5 separate regions of the Homo sapiens genome follow, and regions 1, 3, 4 and 5 are each linked to region 2. The links come from fine-mapping of genetic effects on plasma protein levels. A gene starts in region 2. Each other region holds a variant in brackets. All regions are shown on one strand. Distances are from middle to middle.

Region 1 (5,105 bases), 69 kb before region 2:
ATAATTCCCACACTTTATATGACAGCCCCCTCGACAACACATTTTAATTGCACGAAGCATCCATTGTGCCCTAGGAAACAACCTCTTTCCTAAGACATTTTCTTTGCCCTGGAATTTTGCATTTCTGTCTTTTTCACCCTTCAGGTCTTTTCTCCAATACCACCTCCATGCAGTGCCTTACTTTGCCGCACCCTCTAATCCAGGCCCTGCCTATTGAAACAGCCACTCTATTTTCTTTCTTTTTTTTTTTTAGACAGAGTTTTGCTCTGTCACCAGGCTGGAGTGCAGTGGCGTTATCTTGGCTCACTGCAACCTCTACCTCCCAGGTTCAAGTGATTCCCCTGCCTCAGCCTCCTGAGTAGCTGGGAGTATAGGCAGGCACCACCACGCCCAGCCAATTTTTTGTGTTTTTTTTTAAGTAGAGACAAGGTTTCACCATGTTGACCAGGGTGGTCTTGATTTCTGACCTCGTGATCTGCCAGCCTCGGCCTCCCAAAGTGCTGGGATTACAGGCATGAGCCACCCCGCCTGGCTGGAACAGCCACTCTATTTTCTTTAGAGTGAAAATCACAAACTTTAATTACATGATTCATGTGTGCTCTTGCTTGTTATTCTTGTCCTCCATGACAGCAGGAATCTTCTCTGTCTTGTTTATGGTTGTAGACCCAGCACTGACCTTAATGGCTAAGATATAATTGAGACAGAAAAAATTATTTGTAGGATAAATGAATTAGAAATGTATTTATTGAGTTCTGTGCTATGTACTCAACACTTCGCTAAGAAGTAGGGAGTATTTTGTAAAAGGCATGGGATCAAATGCCATCATCTTTGCCCTTAAAGAAGTTGTATTTTATTTGAAGAGACCAAACTCTGCACAGTGAGAAAATGAAACTAACAACATAAGCCAGTACATTTGAGTACTCGATTTAAGTACTAAATTATATGTTTTTGGTCACGTCGAGTTGACCAGAGGAACTTCTGGTGGGATAGGCCAGCCAAATGGTTTACTTATGAATAAGAGGGGTAAAGTTACAGAAGTTGGAGAAGTAAGAAACAATGAATTCTGGAATATCCAGAGAGGTCGTCATGGAGAAGGTTAAATGTATACCAACCTAAGACAGGTCGGAATTAGTTAAAAGTGCTTGAAAACACCTAGAGTGATGGTCCTTAGGTTCCCGAAGTAATGTTAATAAAAGGGAGCCCATTTACCTGCCAAATAGCAGGATATTTTATTATCTTTCCAGTGTATCCCATAACGAGGAGTGCCAGAAATTCCCCAGGTCAACTCAGAATTAATATGAGACACAATCACAGAGATCTTAGTTTCCAAACTCCCAAGTCCATGCCTGTATGTTCTTCCCCTTCCCAACACAGGCCCTGATGCACTGTATCTTTTTGAGGCTGAAGAGAGGGACGGAACCTTCTCCTAAGAAACAGGCTGCAGCTACCATCTCTGCCCTTGGTCCAAAGTGCTGTCTCCTCCCATCTTATCCTTGCCAGCTCTAGTCAATTTTGGAGCATTAGCATCTTTCCATAAGCAGTGATAAATCGGGACATTGCAAGACAGCTGGTGTCCCACACCAAACCTCAGAAATCTTACCAGCTAGAGGCAAACAGATGTTCTCTGCCTTTCCTACCTTGTTTACCAAGGGCTGTAACTAGTCCTGGGCTTTGGGTATGTTTGCTTAACAGATGCATCCTAATGCAAATTAACTGGGAAGGAATGGGAAAAAATAAACAAAAAATGCAAATGTTTAGCCACTCAAAATTTTCTGTCTTAAAAATACTCTCCAGGAACAAATGGCAATGAGAGCGAAGTTCAAAATGTTCCTATTTCTTCTGAGTTCACAGCTAATGTTCTTTTTATACTAGGCCTTCATGTGATTATTAAGGACAAAGATCAAGAAATAGAAGGGAACTCCAAATGGAAAGGGGAAGAAAATTGGGATGGAAAGAGAAAGCCCTAAGTGTGGTATACTCAAAGAACACTAAGAGGCAAGGCTGGCTCCAAAACATCCATGTAGGAAAACTGGAAGAGTGATGATATTTTTGGAAGATTGTGCAAGAGAACTGTTCTTGAGCTCCTGAGTTCTTGAGCAAGGACACTCTTTGGACGAGATCTTTTGCTTATTTAGGATTGTGGGGCTGTTAGAAATTATCAAGGGCTAAATTTCACCCCAGCTACCTCTTGGCACTACTGATAACAGACAAGAGACAGCTGTAACCAAACTGAAGGTACATTGCAGTAACGTGAAGGGAGGATTAGAGACCCCAGCTAGAGAAAAAGAACAGGTACATGCCTAGAATAAGACAGTAACAGCTGAAAGGAAAGGAAAGATACAAGAAACCCTCCAGGGGGAATTCAATAAGATGCAGTGAGTGGATACATTTAGGAGATGCCAGAGAAGAGTGAGTCAGAAATTCTCCAAGGCTGCAGGCTTGGCAGGCTGAGCGTGTATGTCAGAGAAGTCAGGAGTAGATACAAGTTTGGGGGCATAATGATGAATTTGTTTCTCCACCTGCTAAATTTGAGGTAACAGCAAGATATACAGGTGACAATGCCCAGTAGGTTGTTGAAGATATAGGAGCCAGTCCAAATAGAGTTCCTGGTATTTGTTAAAATAGCACTGACTGGAAAACTCACCTAAAACACACAAGCATTGCAGTGCTTTGCTGAAACCTCTGAAGCTTATGAATTGTCTGTTCTCAGTTCTTTGTGAAATGCTGAGTTATAGATATATAACCCCAAGGCTCATGATATCTAAGTCTTTCTAAACAAATAGCTGTGAGTGCAAAGAATCATAAGGTCTGGAAATGTCTGGGCTGGAAATACTCCAGTTAAGCTTGGACTGTGGACATTCCTCCCTCCCCCAAAACCTTTGTGAATTTTATAATATCTGAGTATCACTACATA[A/T]CTGGCTGTAGCAACGTAGCATCTCTATACTGTTGTCAACTTCGTATCTATTTGTAAAACAGTACTGCTTTTTACCAAAATAAATTTAATTTACAAAGTAGTACCGTAAGTGAAAAAACAGTATCACATGAATAAAATACAATGGTAAAAATACAGCTAATGAGGAAAAAGATATTAAAGCTAGCTGATTACTAGCTGTTGTACACATTTGTCATTTTTTGCATGCTTGACTTCTCTGTTGTTCAATATCCAGTGTCAACTTGATTGGATTGAAGGATGCAAAGTATTGTTCCTGGGTGTGTCTGTGAGGGTGTTGCCAAAGGAGATTAACATTCGAGTCAGTGGACTGGGAAAGGCAGACCCACCCTCAATCTGGGTGGGCACCGTCTAATCAGCTGCCAGTGCGGCCAGAATAAAAGCAGACAGAAGAACCTGGAAAGACTAGACTGGTTTAGTCTTCTGGCCTCCATCTTTCTCCCATGCTGGATGCTTCTTGCCCTCGAATACTGGACTCCAGGTTCTTCAGCTTTGGGACTCTTGGACCTTTGTCCACAGACTGAAGGCTGCACTGTCAGCTTCCCCACTTTTGAGGTTTTGGGACTTGGATTGGCTTCCTTGCTCCTTAGCTTGCAAATGGACTATTATGGGATTTCACCTTGTGATCATGTGTGTCAATTCTCCTAATAAACTCCCCTTTATATATACATACGTCTTATTAGTTCTGTCCCTTTAGAGAACCCTAATACTGAAACTTCTGAAAATCCTTCCTTTATGAGGAAGTCCAAATTACAGGGCAGGGTCTTGATTTTTCAAATGTATGCTGAAGGGGGATACAGATTTCTGCTCCCCATCTAACTCTAAGTGACCCTGTATTCTGGCTCATAGCCTTGCAAGGAAAGAACCAAAGACAAAAGGATGAATTTCTGAGACGCCCACACTGCAGTGTGTGGTGCACTGCCAGCTGCCACCCACAGTGCCCATGCAGGCCCGTCTCATGACATTTCTTGCTTAATTTATCAGATTCCTGGCTTTCCTTGGTTGTTGATGTAGTGTCCCTGCAAAACTTAGGGTCACTCAGAACCTCATAATGTGACCTTACTTAGAAATAGGGCTTTTGCGGATATAATCAGTTCAGGATCCCAAGATGAAATGCTGAATTTGTTGTGGGCTCTAAATCCAATCCTTAGAAGACAGGAGGACACTCAGATGCACAGAGCAGACCATGTGAAGAGAAACGCAGAGATAGGAGGGATGTACCTACAAGCCAAGGAATGCCTGGAGCCACCGGAAGCCTGTCAAAGTATCTGAGCCTGAGATCTATTTTTTGTTGAAATGAAAGTAGCAAGTGTTAAAGAGCTGTTAACAGCAGAGCAGTGCTAAATTGAGACTGTCCCCATGGGGCAATTAGAAAGACTGAAAGAAACTGGAAGGTAAATGACCTTGTATGATGTAATGTTATTTAATGGTATGTCTGTTTTTTGCCTGAAGCCATCTAATGCAGCACTAGTGATATGTCCCCTATCTTGGTAAATATTGGTTTAGTAAAATGTCCCGCCTTTATAAATAGGAGATTGGGTCTTGGTAAAGCAAAATGAAAGCACACAATCCCATGGATAGGCTAGAAGAGTCAAGTCCATGACTCTGTTCTTCCACGTTTCCTCCTTTTGCTCCCCACTCCACTGTTTTACCCCTTTATACATCTCTTCTTCAGGGCTTTCCTAACTATGTTTCTAGCTTTTGTAAGCTCCGTGCTTTAACATCTGCCCTATGTGCATATGCTGACACCACTCGTTCTGGACAATAAGGTGATATGCCCAAGTCACCTCGCCTTGGTCTCCTACCTCCCTCATCATCAACACCTCCCCTCCTTGGGAGGAGTCCTCCTCCTGGGGCATGTTTTCAAATGCAAACCCACCAGTTCAGAGTTCACACTCCTGTCATCCCTCTTATCAGGATCACACCATTCAGGCCACTATTCACCTCCCCTAATTACCCCAGAGCCAGGTACCAGACAGCTAAAGACAGCCTCCATGCCCAGGGTCTGCTGAAATTATTCAAATTAGCCAATCCTGAGCCTGCTGACCCTGCCTTCCCTGTTGCTTCCCATGGAAACCACAACAAAGGCTCTACCCACCGTTTTCTTCTCCCTCTGCCTCTGATCAGCCCTAGTGCTCCCCCACAAGGCCCCCCA
Region 2 (5,105 bases):
TCACTGAAAAGAAGAACAAACCCTTTTCCTCTTCTAATTGATGGAAAGGTCATTGAAAGGAACACCCTGTATAGAGGATAGTGCAATGCCCACAGTATTCCAACATTTAATTAAAGCATTGAAATACAAACTAGGGGTGGTGCTAGACTTTATTTCCATCAAGATGGAAAATACTGCACCAAAACCCCAAATGGAGCTACTTAATTCTTTAAAAATTATGTCTATCAAATACTAAGCCCCTAGAGAGGCATTCTCTGTCTTTGGCCAGCTGGAGAGTGCATTAGTTAGGAAAAATTAAGCAAGGAATACAGATGTCACCTCGTGCTTTCCCTGGCACATCCTGCAACACCACTTAACCTGTGCCCCCTGCACATTGCAGCTTTGCATACAACTGTGAACTGTGAATTTGGAATTTAAAAAGACTCTGGATACTGTTGGGGCTGAAATTAAAAACTCTGAGGACAGTTTTCTCCCTTAAGACCCCTTGCTAAAGGTAAGCTGATATCCTGGGGTTTCTCATCAAGCCAAACACGGAGCACCAGGTCGCTAAACAGCAGCTACAGCTTCCGTCAGCTCTTCCCCTACTCTCATCAACCTCAAAGTCTGTCTTTCCCCAGCTATTTGCAATTCTCTGAAAGGACATGAGCCCGGGAAGGGAGAACTGGCTCCCAAGCGCTTTCCTACAGGAGCTCAGCGCAGTTGCCAAATTCCTTTTCCTCCCCTCCTCCGCAACTTTTCTCTAAGTACCGGAGAAGGGCTTGCTGCCTACTCCGAGGCAGCGGCAGTGCCAGCGGTGCCTGGCACACGAACAGTGGAACCTGCAGGCGAGATCTGACCCCCGGCTCTGCCCCCGCCCTCCGCGGCCACCTGCCCGATCTCTGAAGAGTGTGGAAGCCCGGGGCTCTCTTGGGAGAGAAGCTTCTCTACCTGGGAGAAACAAATCAAACATTTATCCTGTTCCGCAAAGGTACCCAGGGAGCAGCCTCAGCGGCACCCGCAGAGGAGTCTGAGCAAGGGCACCAAGATCTGGCCAAGAGATAACGACGTCCAGGGACCAGGTGCCCTTCGGCTCCCGCCGACCTGTTGCTCGAAACTTGCCCTGAGCTCTCGCTGCCGGGCTCTGGGCTCCCAAGCCTCTCCCCCGCCGCCGCAGCAGCCTCTTTTAGGGGCCCGGAAGAAATGGGAGCCGGGGCTGGTGAGAGGGGTAGGAAGAGGGACGGTAGAAGTTTCAGACCCAGGCATATTTGGGAAGGCGAGTGCTTTACATGATTCCCCATTTCCCAATCGGACCAGCTTAGCCTGGGCAGGCAGCCTCGTGCTGAGGTGCCTGGAGACCGCCCACCCCCTAGGTGCTCGCTTCCCCCCGGGTCTGACCTGATCGAAGTAAATGATGCGCGTCTTGTTGCTCATCTCGGATGGCTCGTGGTTGGTGCTCCGCACCGCCGAGAAGGCGACCTTGGAGTTGGCCGCCCGGACCGATATCCCCAGCGGGGAGGAAGAGGAGCCCTTGGAGTCCGTGGCCGGGTTCGAGTCGCACACCACCAGACACTTGCCCTCCAGCACGATGGGCTCCGTGTCGTTCTGTGCCCAGACGGGCAGCCCCGGCAGCGTGAGGACCAGCAGCACGGCCGGCACCGCGGACAGCGCCCGGCGCCCGGAGCCCATGGTGAGCCGTGTGGGCAGCCGCAGCCGGCTGGCGCTGGTGCTCGCCCGCGTCGCCTCCTACCCCGGGATCCCGGTGCTCGGGAAGATGCTAGCGGCTAGGTCGACAGCGCTGCAGGAGCGACGGCGGCGGCGGCGCGCACACTTCCACCAATTCTGTGGCTTGAAGTCAAAGTCTCCCCTCGAGCTCTCTCGCTGGCTCTGTTACCTTTGTCCTTTAAGGAGCTCATGCAGCACCCTTTACCCTACTCTCCTCCGCCCAAGAATCAGCCCTGCCTGGGGCCCCTGCACCCACTCTGGTTCCTAGACATCTGAAAGTCATCAAACCCTCACATTCACACCTCAAGGCAAAAAATAATAATAATAATAAATTCTCACCCCAAACTCAAGCACCACCAGCTAAACCACGGAGCAGGAACAAAAAGAGGGGACTCAAAGAGAAGCCACAAGGGTGGCGGGTGCCCAGCGGCGCGGGTGCCAGTCCTGTCTGGCTTGCGGCAGGGACGAGTTACAGAGGCAGAAGGTCCTTCCCAGGCTGAGAAGAACGCGAGGCTGTGTTCATGGCCAGGACGCCAGCGACTCCCACTTTCGCCTGGTCAAAAAAATCCCCCAAACCTGGTGTCACCCAGAGGTAGGGAGGGAGGCAGCGGCTAGCCAGGTCCCTCGCACCGAAAGCGCGGATTCGCAGGATCAGGTCCAGGGCGCCGGGCGCAGCGTTCAGGGCGGCTGGTCCGGCGGGGTCCTCTCCTGCCTGGCCGCCCGCCCCCAGTCCCTGCGCACAACTTTCTCGTCCCTCGTGCAGCCCGGAGAGCGCGAAGCGGGCACACGCGCTCTATTTATAGGAGCGCAGCGTCCGGCTGGGTTGGCTTATCGCGCAACCCGCGGGCTCCGAGAAAAGGGGGAGAAGGCGTCTGGTGACCCCATCTGAGCAGCTCTCTCCTGACGTTTAACGCACCCCAAAGCAAGCGGGGCGCACAGCACTGGTGATTGGCAAGGTTCGAGGCCCCTCAGCCCCTGAAAGCCCGTGGCGTAAAGGATGCGTGCCCAGAGAGGAGCCCACGGCCCTGCGCTGGCCCCAGCTCCGCGCCCACTCTCTCCTGCTCGATCTGAGTCCGCAGAGGAGGCGGCTGGTCCCCTCACCCCTCCCAGCGCGGAACTCTGCCGCCGAGTGCCCTCCAAGCGGAGCGCGGCGCTGCCAGGCCGGGTCGCGAAAAAGGATAAGCCGCCGCGGACCCGCGCTGCGCGCTGCCCCGAACCTGGGGACCGGCGGGCGTCCCGACCGCGCCTGGCCGGGAGCCCGCCCCACACAGCCCTGGGGCCTGGCGAGCTCAGGGAAGCCTTGGGGCGGACCAGAGCCCGTGGGGGCGGCTGGGAGGAGGTGCCTGATTCCTTCCTTCCGCTCCGGGAAGATGAGCCTCAGAAGCCGCAGGGGCGCGCCTTCCCCCCACACCGCGAATCCTCCCCAGGCATGGCCAAAAAAAAGAGTGGGAGAGGGAGTTAACTCAGCAAGAATAAGTCCTCCGAAACCGTGCCAACAACAATAAAAAAATAAAAATAAAAATAAAAATAAAAGACAATCCCACTCCTAGGAATACAGCATTTTTCTCCCCTTTGGATGCGCTTTCCGCCCCCGTGCCACTCCACTGCTATCTTGGCCTCTGATTTGCAAGAGTTCCCTTCCTCTTCTGCAGCTACCACGGGGAAGGGAGGTTTGTCTCTGTCTGGACCCGGCTGCGTGAACTTGGCCGAGTCACTAACCCTCTCTGAGAGGGGGGCGCGGCGTTAACTAAGGTCCTCCCCACCCCCATCCCGCCAGCTTTCCAATTCTGTGATGCTGTGGGGTCATGGCGCCCCTTCCCCAATTTCTTCTACACTTCCAGCTGCCAGAGGGCAGACACGTATGGTATCTTTAACCAAAACAGTATCCCCTCCAGGCATTCGGAGCTCCTAAAATGGCATTGGCTAGTTATGAATGGAAGGGATGTTTATTGAGGGAGGTCCTTGGGATGGACGGCTCCCATTCCTTCCTGAGTGAAGGACGCCCTCATGAGCGTGGCATTCGAGCCCTCCACAAAACAAGGTGAACCTCGTCTCCAGCCTTTTTCCCTTCCTTCAGAAGGGCCGGGCATTGAGCTATAAGCACCAGCTCCAACTGTTAAAATTGAAGACACTACGAGGAATCCCCTAACCCTCACCTCCCTATAATCTCTCAACTAAAGTGTTAATACTTGGTGCCACAGGGGCCTTCAGATTCTGCTCCAGTGGGGCCAGTATCAGGTGTTTTGACTTTATGATTTTATTTTACTTGTGGTGGGGGGTGGTCTCGCTATATTGCCCAGGCTAGATGCAAAACTACTGGGCTCAAGCGATTCTACTACCTCAGCCTCCCCAGTAGCTGAGACTACAGGCCGGTGTCAGTTCCGGCTGGCAGGTGCTAGTACCATGCTATTTGTTAAAATGTTGAAAGTTACCTATCTAAGCTACAACCAAACAAGGTGAACTAGTGCCTTCTGAAGATGGCCACCATTTACCCAGCTTTGATGCCCCACCCTAAGCCCAGCACAATCTTCACCTGATCCCTCTCTGCACTTTGTAACTCTCTTCCAGATTTTAGGGATGTCTGCCTGGTTAACAGCAGCAATTTCTTCTCATTTGATGCAGTCTTTTGAGGGTGGGTGCTGAGTTGAATTTAGTTCCTTTTATTTCCTGTAGGGGTAAGCACCCTGCCTTCCTTGTCTGGGACAGCTGTTCAATAACTAGAACTTTGGTTGTTCAATTTCAGGCTGGGAGAAGTTTGACAAAAAAAAAAAAAAAAAAAAAAAAAAAACTGTGTTGAATTGTTAAATAGAAAATAAGCTATCTTCCTCACCAATTCCAATATATTCTCTCTACCTCCTTTTCTTCTCCAGGCACTTCCTGCACGCAAGAACTGAGATTTGAAGAAACCTATTCTTTCTCTCACCAAAAATATTCATTTTTAGTCCCAAAATCTGCATAGTGACCATAGTAAAGACTCAATAATTGAGAAATGACTGAATGCTTCCTAATAGAAGGTAATTATCACTCATATTATAGTATAAACTGCTTTAAATGAGTCTCTCTCAGTAAAATTTAAATTCAAAGCCTCCTTAATAATTGGGGATAAGGGTCTCGGTTCCTTACTAAAGGATGTTCTGCTCTTCAAAGTGTTCTGAAGATAAGGAACACAGCATTTTCTGTGGACCCCCGCTAAGAGAAGTTATCTTATATTGTGAATCAGAGGGTCCTGACTCTTTTTCCCACAACAGTTGATTAAACACGGATAGCCCCTGGGTTCTAGGACCATCAATGCATTTGATACCAGAAGTCCAAGATTTGTATGGTCCAACTTGGCCAGATGACTTGGGGCTGCCAGATTTTCTCTCTGCAATCTTAATGAGACATCAAAATAGCTTCCAGTAAGC
Region 3 (5,105 bases), 290 kb before region 2:
GAGGCACCTTGCATGGAAGTAAGAGCTCAGAGCTAGAAGCGTTTGTGAGTCTGCCCTCCAGCCAATCCTGATCTCCATTTATGATAAAGTTCAAAGATATCTAGGCAGGAATTTTGATGTCTTTAAGGCTTGGAGTAAGTATTTGAGCTACTCTAGCAGGTTGAATCATATGAAGTTGCTTATACCCAGCCATACATAATCTAAAAATCTCAATTTCTTGTTTCACTTTGACAGAAAGCCTGACAGTGCCCATCTGGTGTTTGGTTTAGACTAAATTAAAACTCTCCTATAATCCGGTCTGCTGTGCCATCCTTATAGGTAAAATTCATTCACTGTGTCCTATTTCTCTTTGTGTACCCAGCACATAACACAAAACCAGGGACGCAGTAGGCACTCAATAGACATGTGATAAATTAATTGAATAAGTGATAATGGACTCCCCAATCCTGGAAGAATTGAGAAGAGAAGAAACAATTGGCAATGACTTTATAGAACTCGTTTATGCAGTGAGGAATTGGATGAGTATGTAGTAAAGGAAGCATTGGATAATATGACTTTTAAAGTCTCTTCCATATATGGGAATCTTTGGTAAATGCCACACATTAACTTCTAGAATGCATCATGCAGAAAGCTTCATCTGAACCTAAAATTGTCAAAAAGGTCACCTGCAACCCTATTATTTTAGAATACATAGTTAGAACCTGGGATGTCCTACAAAAGTCTCCTGTTTTGTAACCCAGTGTTCCTCCCAATTATTTATTTTGCCTATTTTCTGGCATATTGTAAAATTAAAAATTAATTTGGTGGTGATGGTGACAGGAAGTAATCACCAATAAATCTAAACACAAAGTTGTTTCTATTTACACAGCTTTTTCTGAACATCATTTGGAAGTACAAGAAATCTAGGAGCTATCAGTAGTAGATGACAACAGAATAAGCAATGACCGATCTGCTTTCTTTCCCTTTGTGGAAGACAGAAAAATAGGCTAAGGAAAGAAGTACTAGTGAAGACAACACAGGAAAGAAATGAGACTCATGGATACAGCATTCCAGAGAAAATAAAGCAATGGCTTTTTAAAAGGAAACTGACGGGTATGTTATAGGGACAGTAAGAAGACCAGCATGGCTGGAATAGAATAAAGGAGTAGAAAGGCAGTTGGCAAAAATAAGCCAGACAGAGGGGATGCCAGGAAATGGGTGGGGAAGAGCTGTCAGCCATTGTAAGGCTTCTGACTTTTTCTCTGCAACAGGAAGTTGTTGCTAAGACCTCACAGACTATTCCATCTACTTCACAATCACAAAAGCAAAGACATCTCTGAGTGAGAGATTGACAGAAGGAAAGGACAGGGAATAGGATGAACAAAAATCAGGAAAATGTTGTCTTGACAGCTTAATTGTTGCTTTGCAATTTTCCTCCCTTATCTTACTTTTACCCAGTGCAATTTGATACCAAAGTTTTTCAAGTGAGTTTCATCAATTCCTTTTATTTCTTTATCACAATCAAATGAACCTAGGCACCAAGACCACAGGCTGATCAAAATAACAGAGAAAGAATGTAGGTTTTTTAAAATATGAAAATGTGGTTCCATTTTTGGATTCATTCACTTAGGTTAATCTTGATTATGGTTATTTGGTGAGAAATCAAATATTTTTGAAGGCCAGAAGGGAATGTCTATTTGGATAAAACATGTTGAACTAAATATGGTTCACCAAATTATTATATTTACACATTGTCCACACAAGAAAAATCTGAAATCTCCAGTTTCGGCGATCAACTTTTTAACCTTTCAAGGAAATTTTCCTGTAGAAAGAAGTAATTGTATATAATGAGGTGTGATTACGTTAAGTGGAAGGAGATGTACTATCCTTGCCAACTGTGCTAGCGAGTTGTTTGCCTGGCCTTCCCGAATGTGTCAGCAAGAACTTCTCCAAAATAAGAGAAGAATTCCATCCAAGGCCATTTCTCAGATAAAAAGAAGGCAGAAGAGTATTTTATATCAAAGGCAAATAC[G/A]GCAAAAAATTACTCTTAAATCTCGGTCATTTTTCTTCCAGATTAAAGAAAAGCCAGGGAACTTTTTCTCATAATTTCACATCCAAATTCCTGTTTGGGAATGCATTCTGAGAAATTTATGAATCAGGAGACACTCTGCTTACTGCGACAGTAACTAGAATAAGAATCTGAATTGCTCCAATTTCTCAAAAAAAAAAAAAAAACAGGTTTATTTTCTCTGTGAGTTCATGGGCAAGAGCTGGAGGGGTAGGTGTGTGGGGGGAAGTGGATGAATCCTATCTTTTGAAAGTAGGCTTCATCTGGAAGCTAAAAAGATCATGAAGGTCACCTTCAATGCTATTATTCTAGAATTCTAAGACAATAAGTATAGCTTTTATTTACTATTAAAATAGATTAGTTCACCAAGATCTCACTAAATTGGATGCAACCTATATGGCCACCTGAAATAGCCAGAAAAAGTGGATAAGCATGCGGAGAGGCCCCTGTGAAGGGCATAAGATTGGCATCACTGTGGGGTGCACGGTCACTGTGGGAGTTCACTCAGCAGTGGTAGAGGGTAAGGTATTCATGTGTCACAAGTGTGGTTGAATCACAGGTGGTTTCCAAGTCTAGCTGAGCCTCAGAATCAATTGTGGTGTTCTTGTTTGTTTTCTTTCTATATGCGGTGTCCTGGGATCTCAAATCATAATCACCAAGAGTAACCCTAAACATCCATCGTTTTAAAAGCTTCCCAGGGAGTCTGATGTGGGCAGGTCCTATGCCAGATTCAGCATCTAACATGTGTTTCTTAAGCCACTCAGTGGACCTGGCATTGCTCTAAGCCTTGGCTACAAAGTGGGGTATAGGGCTGGGGTTTGAGTTTAGGCCCGTGGACCTGTTTTCAAGGTGTTCACATTGTCTATCTCTTTCACTCTAGAGATGTCATAGTTTTGTGTCCATAATAATGAGAAGGCCACTTAAAAACATATTCTATTGTGAAATATAACCAAATAATATTCACAACTATTATTTCTATTAATAATAATAGCTTGTCAAAGGTCCAATCTTAAGTGCTAGGCAGATAATATTTTAATTTTTATTTTAATCCATTTTACAGATGAGGAAATGTAGAATTCAAGAGATTAAATACATGGTTTACACCCCTCTGCCAAGGCAAGTGGGAGGGCATGAGGCAGAAGGAGGAGATAGGTTTAAAGCAACAAGGATGAGATTCTCTTCTACTTCTGTCTCACCCTAGAGCCTGTGATCTTACCTCTAATGCTACTCCCTCAAATATATATGAGTAGTTCAATATACATGGTTGAATACACATGTTATTGACATTCCTACAATATGTAGAGTTTTGACAAGCAGAACGGAAAATGTCCCTAGATTCTAAGTAGTCTAGGTATTCTAAGTAGTACTGTGATTATAGTGTCATATATCAAAGAGGAGTGAACTTTTTTATTTTCTTCCACAGGCCAGGTATCTATATACATTATCACTTAATTTATATCAGCAACAAGGTTTAATCTAAGCCCCAATTAGTATTGAGAAAGCTGAGTCCGAGGGGGCTAAGTTCAAAACTACATGCCCCAAGAGTGGTATATTTCAGGTCTTTGGATCTAAATATGGAATGTGCTTTTTTATTGCATCAACTTAGAAATCATATAATGAGCTCCTTAAAAGAAAAGCTGGGTTTATGTCTCAGCTCTGCTGCCACTTAAAAGCTGTATAATCTTGGTCAAGTTGTGAAACTTCTTTCAATTTCAGTTTCCTCATCTACAAAAGCAGAATAATAATAGTAATAGTTATCTCAAAGGGTGAGGATTACATGTTAATAAAGCAGCTAATGAAGTGTCTAGGAAATACAGACAATAATGCTATTGTTTATTATTAAAGTTAATTTTAACAATACTTGTAGACAGTATGTTCTATTAAACTCTCAGAAAATGGAAGTTATGGAGGCAGAAAACAGTGAGAGATAAGAAGGAATTGGAAAGGATATTCCCTAAGAAATAAGGCAAAATTGTAAGCTAAGTAAATAGGTAGTGTAATTTATTGTTTTCTTTGCCTTTTTAAAAATTTACTCCTTCAACCAGTATTATGAGTGCTTACTATGTGACAGATACTATTCTAGGTATTGGAGATTCAGGAGTGAAGAAGACAAATAAGATTTTACTCCAGAAAGAACTTAACCTTCCAGAGAAAGAGAAAGTCAATCAGAAAGTAAGTAAGTAAGCTGTGTGTGGTGGCTCATGCCTATAATCCCAGCACTTTGGGAGGCTGAGGTTGCTGGATCATTGAGCTCAGGAGTTCAAGACCAGCCTGGCCAACATGGCAAAACCCTGTTTCTACTAAAAATACAAAAATTAGCCAGGCACGATGATGGTCCATGCCTATAGTGCCAGCTACTCGGGAGGCTGAGGAAGGAGAGTCACTTGAACTCAAGAGGCAGAGGTTGCAATGAGCTGAGATTGTGCCACTGCACTCCAGCCTGGGTGAGAGGATGAGACTCCATCTCAAAAAAAAAAAAAAAAAAAAAAAAGGAAAGGAAATAAATGAATAATATAGTTGCAGTTAGTGACGAGGATATAGGGAAAATCAACGAAGAGTGCAATAGAGAAAGGGAACAGTGACTATCTGGACAGAATCAGGCAAGGAAAGACCTCATTGAGGAGATGAGATTTGAGCTGAGACCTGAGTCTGACATGCAACAGTCTGGGGACAGAACCCATGGAGTAGAACAGGGAACCCCAAGTGGAGTGTGCAGGAGAGATAAAAAGCCTATCATATTTGACAAAAGGCAAGCAGGCCAATGAGTGATAAAGTCAAAATGGCTATCAGGGATCAGGCCTTGTGGAACTGTGTGGGTAGCATGCCTGCCTTTCAACAGGTTTGTGGAGAAACAGACTGAGATGGAGATTTGCTCACATCAAGTCCTTGAGAGCAACACCCATCTAAGAAATGTAGGAGACAGGATTGAGCAGAGAGAGAAGTTGAGCTGTAATGTGTTTGATATCATTTGGCTCTGTGTCCCTACCCAAATCTCATGCCAAGTTGTAATCCCCAGTGTTGGAGGAGGGGCCTGATGGGAGGTGATTGGATCACAGGG
Region 4 (5,105 bases), 520 kb before region 2:
ATAAATGAAGGAAGTCTGGACAGACACCAGCTAAGCTGTTGAGAGGAGTTCTCTAACCTGAATATGCCACTTAAAAAATAAAAAGCTGTATTAGTCTATTCTCACACTGCTATAAAGAACTGCCGAAGACTGGGTAATTAATAAAGAAAAGAGGTTTAACTGACTCACAGTTCCGCGTGGCTGGGGAGGCCTTAGGAAACTTAGAATCATGGCAGAAGGCACCTCTTCACGGGACAGCAAGAGAGAGAATGAGTGCCGAGCAAAGAGGGGAAAGCCCCTTATAAAACCATCAGATCTCATGAGAACTCACTGTCACAAGAACAGCATGGGGGTAACTGCCCCCATGATTCAATTACCTCCCACCAGGTCCCTCCCATGACATGTGGGGATTATGGGAACTATAATTCAAGATGAGATTTGGGTGGGGACACAGCCAAACCGTATCACAGAGATGTAATCGTAAGGTGATAATATGATTTGGCTCTGTGTCTCCACCCAAATCTCATGTCCAGTCGTAATCTCCATTGTTGGAGGTGGGGCCTGGTGGGAGGTGATTGGATCATGGGGGCAGTTGCTAACGGTTTAGCACTGTCCCTGTAGTGCTGTTTCATGATATAGTTCTCAGAAGTTCTGGTTGTTTAAAAGTGGCACTGCTCCCCTCTCTCTCCTGCTCCAGTCATACGAGACGTACCTGCTTACCATTCGCCTTCTGCCATGATTGTAAATTTCCTGAGGCTTCCCCAGCCATGCTTTCTGTACAGCCTGTGGAACCATTAGCCAATTAAGCCTCTTGTCTTTATAAATTACCCAGTCTTGGGTATTTCTTTATAGCAGTGCGAGAATGGACTAGTACAGTTAGTATAAAGAGCTGGCAGTTCAGCAAGTACCCAGTCTAGCCCCGTGTTCTTGGAACATGTGCCTTATTAAATAGGCAGTGAAAATTGAATCCAGATTAAGCTCCCTGAGTCTTTTAAGAAATGGTAATTTGGCCAATTATTTAATTTAAATTAAACAAAAACAGCACAATACCACCCACCTACTTTCCTCTTAAACATTTGGATATTTTAGCACAGAAAATCTGAGATGATTTAATTACCTCACTTGCATGTTGTTGACAACTGAAGATGAGATGACATTCATTTAAATTCTAAGCTTAATTTATTCCAGGCCATGTTTTTACCAATTTTCATTAATGGTAATGTAAGAAAAGGTTCAAAACTTATAAACTAGATTTTCACAAAACTAATTTTGAGTTGAAAGTTGGAGTATAATCTCATCATTGGGTTACTGGAGAGTAGGGCAAAGAGAAAGACACTGACTAGTTGTGACTATTATTCTTTTTTGTACCACTTTTTCTGTGGATACTTGTGTAGTTAAGTATGACTTCTAAGGTTGCCTTCTGCTGCCTTTTGGTTGTTTTCCAAAGCTTAGAACAGGACAAGAGGAGTCCTTATGATAGGAATCCTATTCTAAGTAAAGTTCTCACCAGCTGTGCGGACATTATGACCCTGGAGGTTCTGCCAGAGGTAGTTCATTGCTCACATATTACTTGCATAAGATTCTAGCTACATGAAGGGCTGGTAGATCAGGCTATTGGAGGGAGAACAGTAGCTGTGCTGTGTATTTTATAACCGCACACCACAATGGAAAAATAAAATAAGGTGCGTCTTTTTTACCTTCAGCCAACTGAGACGAAGATTTTCTTAAAAGGACCATTTTGGGAACTAGACCTATGCCCTCCTTAAGTTTGGGGAACACAGGAGTTAGTATCTGATGTTCAATGGAAGAATCTAAAGAGGAAGGGAGAGGGTAATAGAGCAAAGAGAACAAGGTGCATTGCAAGCTGACTGTACCTTCATTAAATGTAGAGCAAGAGAGTGTGGACCAGACATTGCCTGCCATGCCCGAAGGGAGCTGTTCCAGGGCTGTCTTCGAAGAGACCCAGCCAATGAGGCAGGAGAATGGCGTGAACCCAGGAGGCGGAGCTTGCAGTGAGCCGAGATCGCGCCACTGCACTCCAGCCTGGGCAGCAGAGCGAGACTCTGTCTCAAAAAATTAAAATTAAAATTAAAATTAAAAAATAGAAGAGACCCAGCCAAGAGGACCAGTGTCCACCGAGGAAGAAGTCCAGTTGATGATAAAGAAGGCATTGTTCTTGTCAAGTGAACAAGTTTGGACACTCCAGAAGGACCCCTCTAAGAGATTTAAGAATACCCTAGAAATTGGTCCTCCACTCGGATGAGATGATGGTCCAAAGCCAGATTACAACAGTTCCTTCATTGACATGGTGCTTTTCTTCACCAAAGGAGTGCACAAGACACCTTTCTGAAGATTTCACAATACTTAAAAAAAAAAATGAACTCTCCTCAGAGTGTCTTTTATAAATGTATGAGGTAGAATAAAAAATTAAATAAGCAGTAGAAACTTATTTAAGACAGTTCCACTCTGGCAAGACCTTTATTTTTCTTATTACTCCTCTCTCCTCCATGCACCCAACCCTATAGCAACCATACGTAGCTGCTGGTGAGGAGGAAGGGACCCTGAGGAAGAAGGAAGAACCCAGTCTACAAGTGAATGGAGAGAGAGAAGAGTTAAGATTGCTGAAGGACTGGTGGTTTACTATAGCACGGATGGAGCTTTTTATTTACCAAAATGACTCTTCTTCTAACTGAAGGAACATTAAAAAAATGACGTGTTTTGCAAAAGACTTAATCCAGGATA[G/C]AAAAGGGGATAGCACAGAAGAGGAGTTTGAAGGAGCAGAAGAAAAAAAGAATAAAATTATTTTCTGTTCACACTCTGCCAAGTCCAGTTCCTTCAATCCATAGATTATAAATTACTGTTTTAAATGAGTTTCTACCGCTACATTTATAAAAAACTCTGAGCAAGTCTTCATTTTTTTTTTTTAAGTGTCGTGAAATCTTTCAGAAAGATGTCTTCTGCGCTCCTTTGGCAAACAAAAGCACAATATCAATGAGGGCATCTCTTCTACAAGGAAAAGTCATGTTAAAAAAAGGACTGCATCGGCAGACATTCGGGACACTATTAAACCCGTAATTCCTTCTATTATGAATAGGAATTATGTGTGAACATCAAAAGAAAAACGAATTCTGCCTGGCATGCTATCATTTGCTATTGAGAGATTCTGGACTTTAATCATAAACCTTGAAAAGAGGCCATCACACCATTCACAAAGGGGAACCTTGGTCTGGACCGTTCAACAGAGTTAGAAATGATACCTGTGTTACTTGAAAGAATCAAACAAAAGAGCCTCCAATTAGCAAGCATTCCATTTTGCATTTTAGTATATGTATTTGTGTATTACCCCAAAAGCAAGTCATATACATAGATGTCAGAATTTGCAAACTCACAGCCCCAGGGATCACTGTTTGCCAGAATGGTGTTTTGTTTTTGTTTTTTACTCATGTTGTTTCTGTTTTATGACATTTTTTTATTGAGGTGTAATTAACATTCAATGCCAGATATATTTAAAAAGTAGAATTTGATAGAATTCTGTGTATGTGTATGCCTGCAAAATCATCACCACAGTCAGGATAGTGAACATATCCATCACCTCCAAATGTATCCTCATGCCTCTCTGTATTAGCTCTCTCCTACCTAAGCAACCCTCAGTCTGTTTCCTATCACTGTAGGTTAGTTCTCTCTAAAGGTTTATAAAAATTGCATCATACAGGATGTATTATTTTTTGTTCTCTTTCACGGAATATAATTATGTTGTAATCCATCAGGTTTTAGCAGGTATTAATAGTTCATTTCTGTTTATTACTGAGTAGTATATCATTGTATAGATATACCACAATTTGTTTACCATACCTATTGATGGATTTGTGGGTTATTTCTATTACTTGACTACTGCAAATTGTTTCTCTGAATATTTGTGCACAAATGTTTGTATGAAAAGAAGTTTAATTGGCTTATGGTTCCACAGGCTGTACAGAATAGCATTACCTAAGAGAGAATAATGTGTACATTTTTCTCTCTTAGGTAAATACCTAAGAGTAGAATGGCTAGATCGTATGATAGGTATATTTAGGCTTTTAAGAAACTGTTAAACTGTGTTTCCAAAGTGGTCGTGACCTTCTAATTTCTAATCACCATTTTATTAGTGTTCTAATTCCTTCACATACTTATTGTTTGGTATTGTCAATTTTTAAACTTCAACTATTGTAATAGGTTGTAGTGGTACTCATTGGGGTTTTAATTCACATTAATAATAATATTGAACATCCTTTGATGTGCTAATTTACCATCTGTATATCTTTGGTGAAATCTGTTCAAATCTTTTGTCTGTCGAGTTCTTTCTTTTCTTACTGAGTTTGGAGAGTTCTTTATATGTTTTGGACACACGTACTTTATCAGATAGGTGCCAGTCGTTTTGTTTTCTTCATGTAGTCTTTTGAAGAGCGGAAGTTTTTAATTTTGAAGTCAAATTTATCACTTTTTCTTTAACGGGTTTTCCATGTTCCTGCCTTTTGGAGATTACTATTTGTTAAGCATGCCCAATGCTTTGAAAAATATTGCATTAAGTATTATCTCTGCCCAGGTTTTTTTTTTTTTTTTTTTTTTTTGTTGTTTCAAGGGGGTATAGTGAATCCAGTTTCTATTACATTTTAGCCAGCTGCAGAAGGTTGGTTGTTACTTTAAGTTTTTCTGGCCAATATTTAACAATACACAGACATATAAATATCTACATAATTAGATTCCCTTGAAAATTATCTGGCCATGCAGTGGTCACATCCCTGCACAAAACAGGCTGGAACAGTGTGACCTGCAGTTTGGTTACCTATTTTCCCCATTAAACTTAATGAGTCCACTGGTAGAAAATGATATTAATGGCAACATGGTTACTCAGCTTCTCTATGTACCCAAATATAACCGTTTATCTAGGTAAATTGCATGGGCAAAGAGTTTTAGTCATTTCATTAAAAAATCATCCCTTACTATTAAATGGAAAAAAAAAAAGCACATCTGATTAGAAATGGTGAAAACTATTACCTTTATTTGCAAAGAAAGGAAGAATGGACATTTTTAGTACCAGGCATATTAGTACCAGGTATTTTAACACACAATATTCAGTAAAACCAATG
Region 5 (5,105 bases), 170 kb after region 2:
TGTTCATCCTTCCCTGATGGCCCAAGTGGAAGAAATTATCTGCAGCACGCAGCTTCCAACTCATTTGGGGGCCTCTACTCTCCTTGCTCCTCATCCTATTCAATTAGTCATCAATTACTTGAGAGTGGCTTAGAGAGAGCTCTGTGCTAACAAGAAGATAGCAAGAAAAGCCTGTGCCTGTTCTCATAGACTTCACCATCCAGCAAGGATCTAAGAGACTTGTGCAAATGCTCATAGCAACACCAAAATGAGGTCTGTGGGAACCTCTAAGCCCCCAGCCCACTCTCCCAGTAGCACACAGATGGGCCTCACAGGGTCAGTGGACCCCAGAATTGCACCCCACTTCATCTGTTCATGAACTGGGTGAGGTGCCCATATATAGCTCTCATCGAATCATATTCTCATTAGATTCTTATCCAGAAGAATTTAACCAACTTCTTGCTCCTTTTTTCCTCCCTTTTCCTTAAGAGACAATGCCTACGACCCTTCAGGGGATCAGGGGAGCATCCGGGGTGATAGGAGATGATGAGAATTTATCACAGGGAACTTCAGAAGGAAATCTGTAAAACGAGCCTTTTACATAAACCTTATAAATCTTGGGGCACATATGGTTCAGTGTCAGTGCAAGATCAAGTTCAGGAAGCATCATTTAGCTTCAAAATGTGATTAATACCAGTTTCATTATTTATTTGCATCTCTCCAATAATACTGAAAGAGATCCAAATGCAGTTTATATTTTATTTATTCTCCTACCCACCCCAAAGAAAGGAAATAAAGACTAGATTGGGGCCAGGTGTAGTAGCTCGTGCCTGTAATCACAGCACTTTGGGAGGCCAAGGCAGGTGGATCACTTGAAGTCAAGAGTTCGAGGCCAGCCTGGCAACATGTGGAAGCCCTGTCTCTACTGAAAATACAAAAATTAGCCAGGCGTGGTGGCGGGCACCTGTGAATCCAGCTACTTAGGAGGCTGAGGTATGAGAATAGCTTGAACCCGGGAGGCGGAGGTTGCAGTGAGCCGAGATCATGCCACTGCACTCCAGCATGGGTGACAAAGCAAGACTCCATCTCAAAAAAAAAAAAAAAAAAAAGACTGGATTGGGAACCAAACTGAGAACATCTTAGGGAAAGAGAAGAGCAGAACCAAGACTGGCTCATCCTGGAGAAAGTGTCGGGAGAGTCATGCGGGAGGACAGGAGTGAGGAGTGGACGAAAGAATCTGCAAGAAGTCTTTCTGGGAGCTATAAATTAAAACACTTACTCTGTCCTAGAAAAGAGAAACGCATAGTAGAGTCTCTTTTTAATTTGGTCTCTACTGTGTTTCTGTAATTCCATCTCTACGCTTAAACTGAGCCACAGAGGGACTTGAAATTTGTTTGAATTGCATTTTTAACCCCTGGAGCCTGTCGGGGACTGTGGCAAGCAGCAGGAATGCAGTTTGACTGCCCTTAAATAACCTAGCAGGGAGTGAAGGAAGCTGCAGGTTTCAGTGTGATTTAGTAGGTGGTAAAAGCCTCAGTTAGCCAAACCCAAGGAGTTTGTGGGCCCAGCTCTGCGTGGCCACTATGGTCCAATGGTGCATGCACCAAACTGTATCTAAGACATCGGATTTCATAGCCGTGAAGGTCCACTTCCTCCAAGAAGCCTTCCTAGACTAACCCAGCCCTTACAACCAAATATCCCCTGATGTTCTCAGCACTGATACGACGAAGCTGAGTCTGATTCACATTTTTACATCCTCTGTCCCCAGTGACACTGCCAGCTCCTGGAGGCAGAATCCACTTCACACCACACATTCTGCCTCCCTCACTGACACACTCAGCCCTCATCCTATCAGAGAAAGTACTCATCAGTCCATCTCAGTTGTCAGCAACTTCCCACCCCCCATGCCACTCCCCACTTCCCTGCATAAAGAGCCAAACTCTGCCACGTCAGGTGAGCACTCAGGCTCAGAGAGACTCCTGGAAGAGTGCTTACCTGAAGGCTCACGGTGGTTTTGTGTGGGTGAAGTGGGGGCTGTGGTTTCAGATCACACTTTCTGATGAATGTATTAAAACCCAACCATCATGTGCTAAGCGGGTCCCTAAATCTAAGCACATTGAATGTGGGCTGAAGTTCCCACACAGTCAATGAGACCCAGGGAGCATCGGCACCTGCCCATGGGAGTCCACAGACACTCCAGGTGCCACTGTTTCGAGTTCCTGCTGCCCCAGGTACTACCTGGCAGCAGGAACCTCCTCTGGGGAAATAACTCTGTGGATGACTCTGGGCTTTGGAGAAGACTCGTCTTACCAGGAATTTGGAACTCTCCCTGCCAGCTGGCTCACACTTCAGGAAAACAGAGCCAGGAGCATTCTGGT[A/G]GCACTGGGCCCCTCCCTCTGCCTCCCTGTTTCTCAGGATGGGGAAGCTTTGGCGGGGGTCACCCACCTTTTTTTGCAAAGTGGCCACATTTCCCTCCTCTCCTGAAAAGGTCAAACTGTTGAGCCTAACTATATTTAAGAACAGCGTAGAGGAAAAGAGACTCAATCAGCAATTGGGTCATATTACCATCCATGATGTTTCAGGAGATGTTTTCTCGCGTTCTATTGTATTATATTATTTGACTTTTTTTTTTTTTTTTTTTTTGAGACGGAGTCTCGCTCTGTCACCCAGGCTGGAGTGCAGCAGCATGATCTCAGCTCACTGCAAGCTCTGACTCCCAGGTTCACGCCATTCTGCCTCAGCCTCCCAAGTAGCTGGGACTACAGGCGCCTGCCACCACGCCCAGCTAATTTTTTGTATTTTTTTTTTTTTAGTACAGATGGAGTTTCACCGTGGTCTCAATCTCCTGACCTCGTGATCCACCCGCCTTGGCCTCCCAAAGTTATTTGACATTTTATAATAGGCATGGGTTTTTAATAATCAGAATAAAACAGCAGTTAGCATTTTGAAAATTAAGAAAAAAGCAAAGGACACTTTCTTTTTTATTTTCCCACTAATGTGGATGAGGGGGAGGGGTCTTTAAAAAATGTCTTCCAACAGAGTAAAATTTCACTTACACTTTTTCCTCACTAGAAGTGTGAAAGCTAATAAATGTTTTAAGTTCTAGGCATTGCTTCTTTCACGTCTGCTTTCTTTTTTCAAATGCTGCATTTCTTTGATGTCTCAGGTAGGCCAGGGTCATGTTTTGAAACCTCAACACCCCCATACTAAATAACTGACCTTAGTAAACAGACCTCACACGTTATTCCCACCAGAATGATTACGATGGAAAAGACAGAAAATGCCAAGTGCCACTGAGAACTTGGAGCACCTGGAACTTTCAAATGCTGATGTTGCGGGTATCAATTCATACTGCTTTGGAAAGCTGTCTTTGGTAGCATGTGCTACCTTAGGACCCAGGAACTATGCAACTTTCCCCAAAGACATGGAGTAGGATATTCTTTGCAGTACTACAATAACCAAAAACTAGAAACTTCTCGACTGTGCCTCAGTGATAAAATACATCATTGCATATCCACACAATGGAATAGTATACCACAATGAAAAGAAATTACAACTATACTCAACAATACAGATGAATCTCACAAACAATATTGAGAGAAAGAAGCCGACTCAAAGAGCCCGTGCTGTTTGTATTCATTAACATAATGTACAAAGACAGGCTAAACTAATCACCTTCAGAGACAAAAGTGAGGAACGTGGTGACCTTTGGTGGGACTAGGGGAGGAGTGACTGCAAAGAGATCTTTGGGTTGATGGAACAGAGGCAATGGTGTCAAGTTCTGTTTCTTGACATTAATGCTTGTTACTTGGGTGTTTCAGCATGTAAAAATCTGAGCTGTGCGCTTTTGCTTTAGGCACTGTGATATGCATATTATAGTCAAAAAGTTTTTTAAAGTAGATATCTGTTCCTATGAAGGATTAGGTTTTAATAAATATAACTCACTTAGTGACCTTTTCACCAAAAAATAGCGGATTAGGTTTTAATAAATATAACTCACTTAGTGACTTTTTCACCAAAAAATAGCAAAGGAGAAAAAAGTGAACCTGCAGGTTGAAAACAGAAAGTTTACAGATGAAAAGAGAAAAATCTGATTGTATGCCCCTCCCACAATCTTACCCAAAACCAAATGCATATTTTAGAATCAACAGATTTCTTATCAAGAGGAAATATTTCGTTGTCCAAGGCGAAAGAGTCTTTGTTTTCTTAAGACAGGGTCTCGCTCTGTTACCCAGGCTGGATTCAGTGGCGCGATTTCGGCTCACTGCAGCCTCAACCTCCTGGGCTCAAGCGATCCTCCTGCCTCACCCTCCCAAGTAGCTGGGACTACAGGCACATGATATCACACCTGGCTAATCTTTGTATTTTTCATAGAGAGGGGGTTTTGCTATGTTGCCCAGACTAGTCTTGAACTCCTGAGCTCAAGTGATCCTCCTGCCTCAGCCTCCCAAAATGCTGGGATTACAGGTGTGAGCCACCACACCCAGCCCAAAAGAGTCTATGTGCAGATCTTATTCTATGTGCAGATCAGTTTGAAGATCTTTAAACATAGCTGGTTTTCAATCCTCTGCCTGCATTGTTTAAAATAAAAGGTGTGTTTTCTGGCATCTTTTTTAAAAAGGCCAAGAGGGGCATGCTGTCATTTGACCTAATTTTGATCTGTTTCATTTAAGAAATATATTTATGCACAGGGGATTGGATTGCCTATAGAATGAGGTCATTTCTTGTGTGTCATATGCTGAAGCAAGTGAAAGGAGAGGCAGGTGACATCTATAAATTTTAGTCACACACTTCCTTCCATTTCACCCAGGATGGTTCTCTAGTCACTAAGCAGGTGAACACTGACACCCAGTGCGAGCAATGGGAACAAAGCTTTCTTGGTACCTGCTTCTAATAAAAATTCTGTGCTTGGATTTACTGGAAATAACTTAGAAGGTACATTTTTGAAAAAATTGATGGGGAAATTGATTTAAAAATTGGTACAGGATATAAGAACACAAACAAAAATAAAAGTTTCAAATGCCAAGTAAATATATATATAAATATGTTCAGCATCACCAGTGAAAAGGAAATGAAACCAGAAATTAAATACCATGTCACCTATCAAATTGGAAACATTACTGAAG

Direction of the effects. Alleles are on the strand shown, and positions count from the first base shown. The strength of an association depends on the size of the effect and on how common the allele is.
In carriers of allele A in region 1, the plasma level of the protein whose gene starts at base 3,013 in region 2 tends to be higher than with T alone (weak association).
For the plasma level of the protein whose gene starts at base 3,013 in region 2, A is the high allele of the variant in region 3 and G is the other (moderate association).
As copies of G replace C in region 4, the plasma level of the protein whose gene starts at base 3,013 in region 2 goes up (weak association).
For the plasma level of the protein whose gene starts at base 3,013 in region 2, G is the high allele of the variant in region 5 and A is the other (moderate association).

Evidence for each region. A credible set is the group of variants that fine-mapping cannot tell apart. PIP is the posterior inclusion probability: the model's chance that the variant is causal. The UK Biobank Pharma Proteomics Project read protein levels with antibody pairs (Olink). The fine-mapping took linkage between variants from a reference panel, not from the people measured, so its PIPs are less certain.
Region 1: its variant is the best candidate, but not a certain one, in a credible set for the plasma level of the CBLN4 protein (UK Biobank, PIP 0.71).
Region 3: its variant is the best candidate, but not a certain one, in a credible set for the plasma level of the CBLN4 protein (UK Biobank, PIP 0.72).
Region 4: its variant is the best candidate, but not a certain one, in a credible set for the plasma level of the CBLN4 protein (UK Biobank, PIP 0.51).
Region 5: its variant is the best candidate, but not a certain one, in a credible set for the plasma level of the CBLN4 protein (UK Biobank, PIP 0.71).

The regions. Positions count from the first base shown.
Region 1 is chr20:55,933,606-55,938,710 of GRCh38, forward strand. No RefSeq gene overlaps it. Among named protein-coding and RNA genes, the nearest start is that of CBLN4, 69 kb to the right of the region's middle. The variant A/T (reference allele first, on the strand shown) is at 2,915.
Region 2 is chr20:56,002,507-56,007,611 of GRCh38, forward strand. CBLN4 (cerebellin 4 precursor) reads right to left here and starts at 3,013. Exons shown (of 3, transcript NM_080617.6): 1 at 1,375-3,013. The coding sequence starts at 1,665.
Region 3 is chr20:55,712,949-55,718,053 of GRCh38, forward strand. The region is part of intron 2 of LOC107984001 (a long non-coding RNA gene); the gene reads right to left. Among named protein-coding and RNA genes, the nearest start is that of LINC01441, 290 kb to the left of the region's middle. The variant G/A (reference allele first, on the strand shown) is at 2,012.
Region 4 is chr20:55,480,011-55,485,115 of GRCh38, forward strand. No RefSeq gene overlaps it. Among named protein-coding and RNA genes, the nearest start is that of LINC01441, 55 kb to the left of the region's middle. The variant G/C (reference allele first, on the strand shown) is at 2,722.
Region 5 is chr20:56,176,964-56,182,068 of GRCh38, forward strand. No RefSeq gene overlaps it. Among named protein-coding and RNA genes, the nearest start is that of MC3R, 69 kb to the right of the region's middle. The variant A/G (reference allele first, on the strand shown) is at 2,358.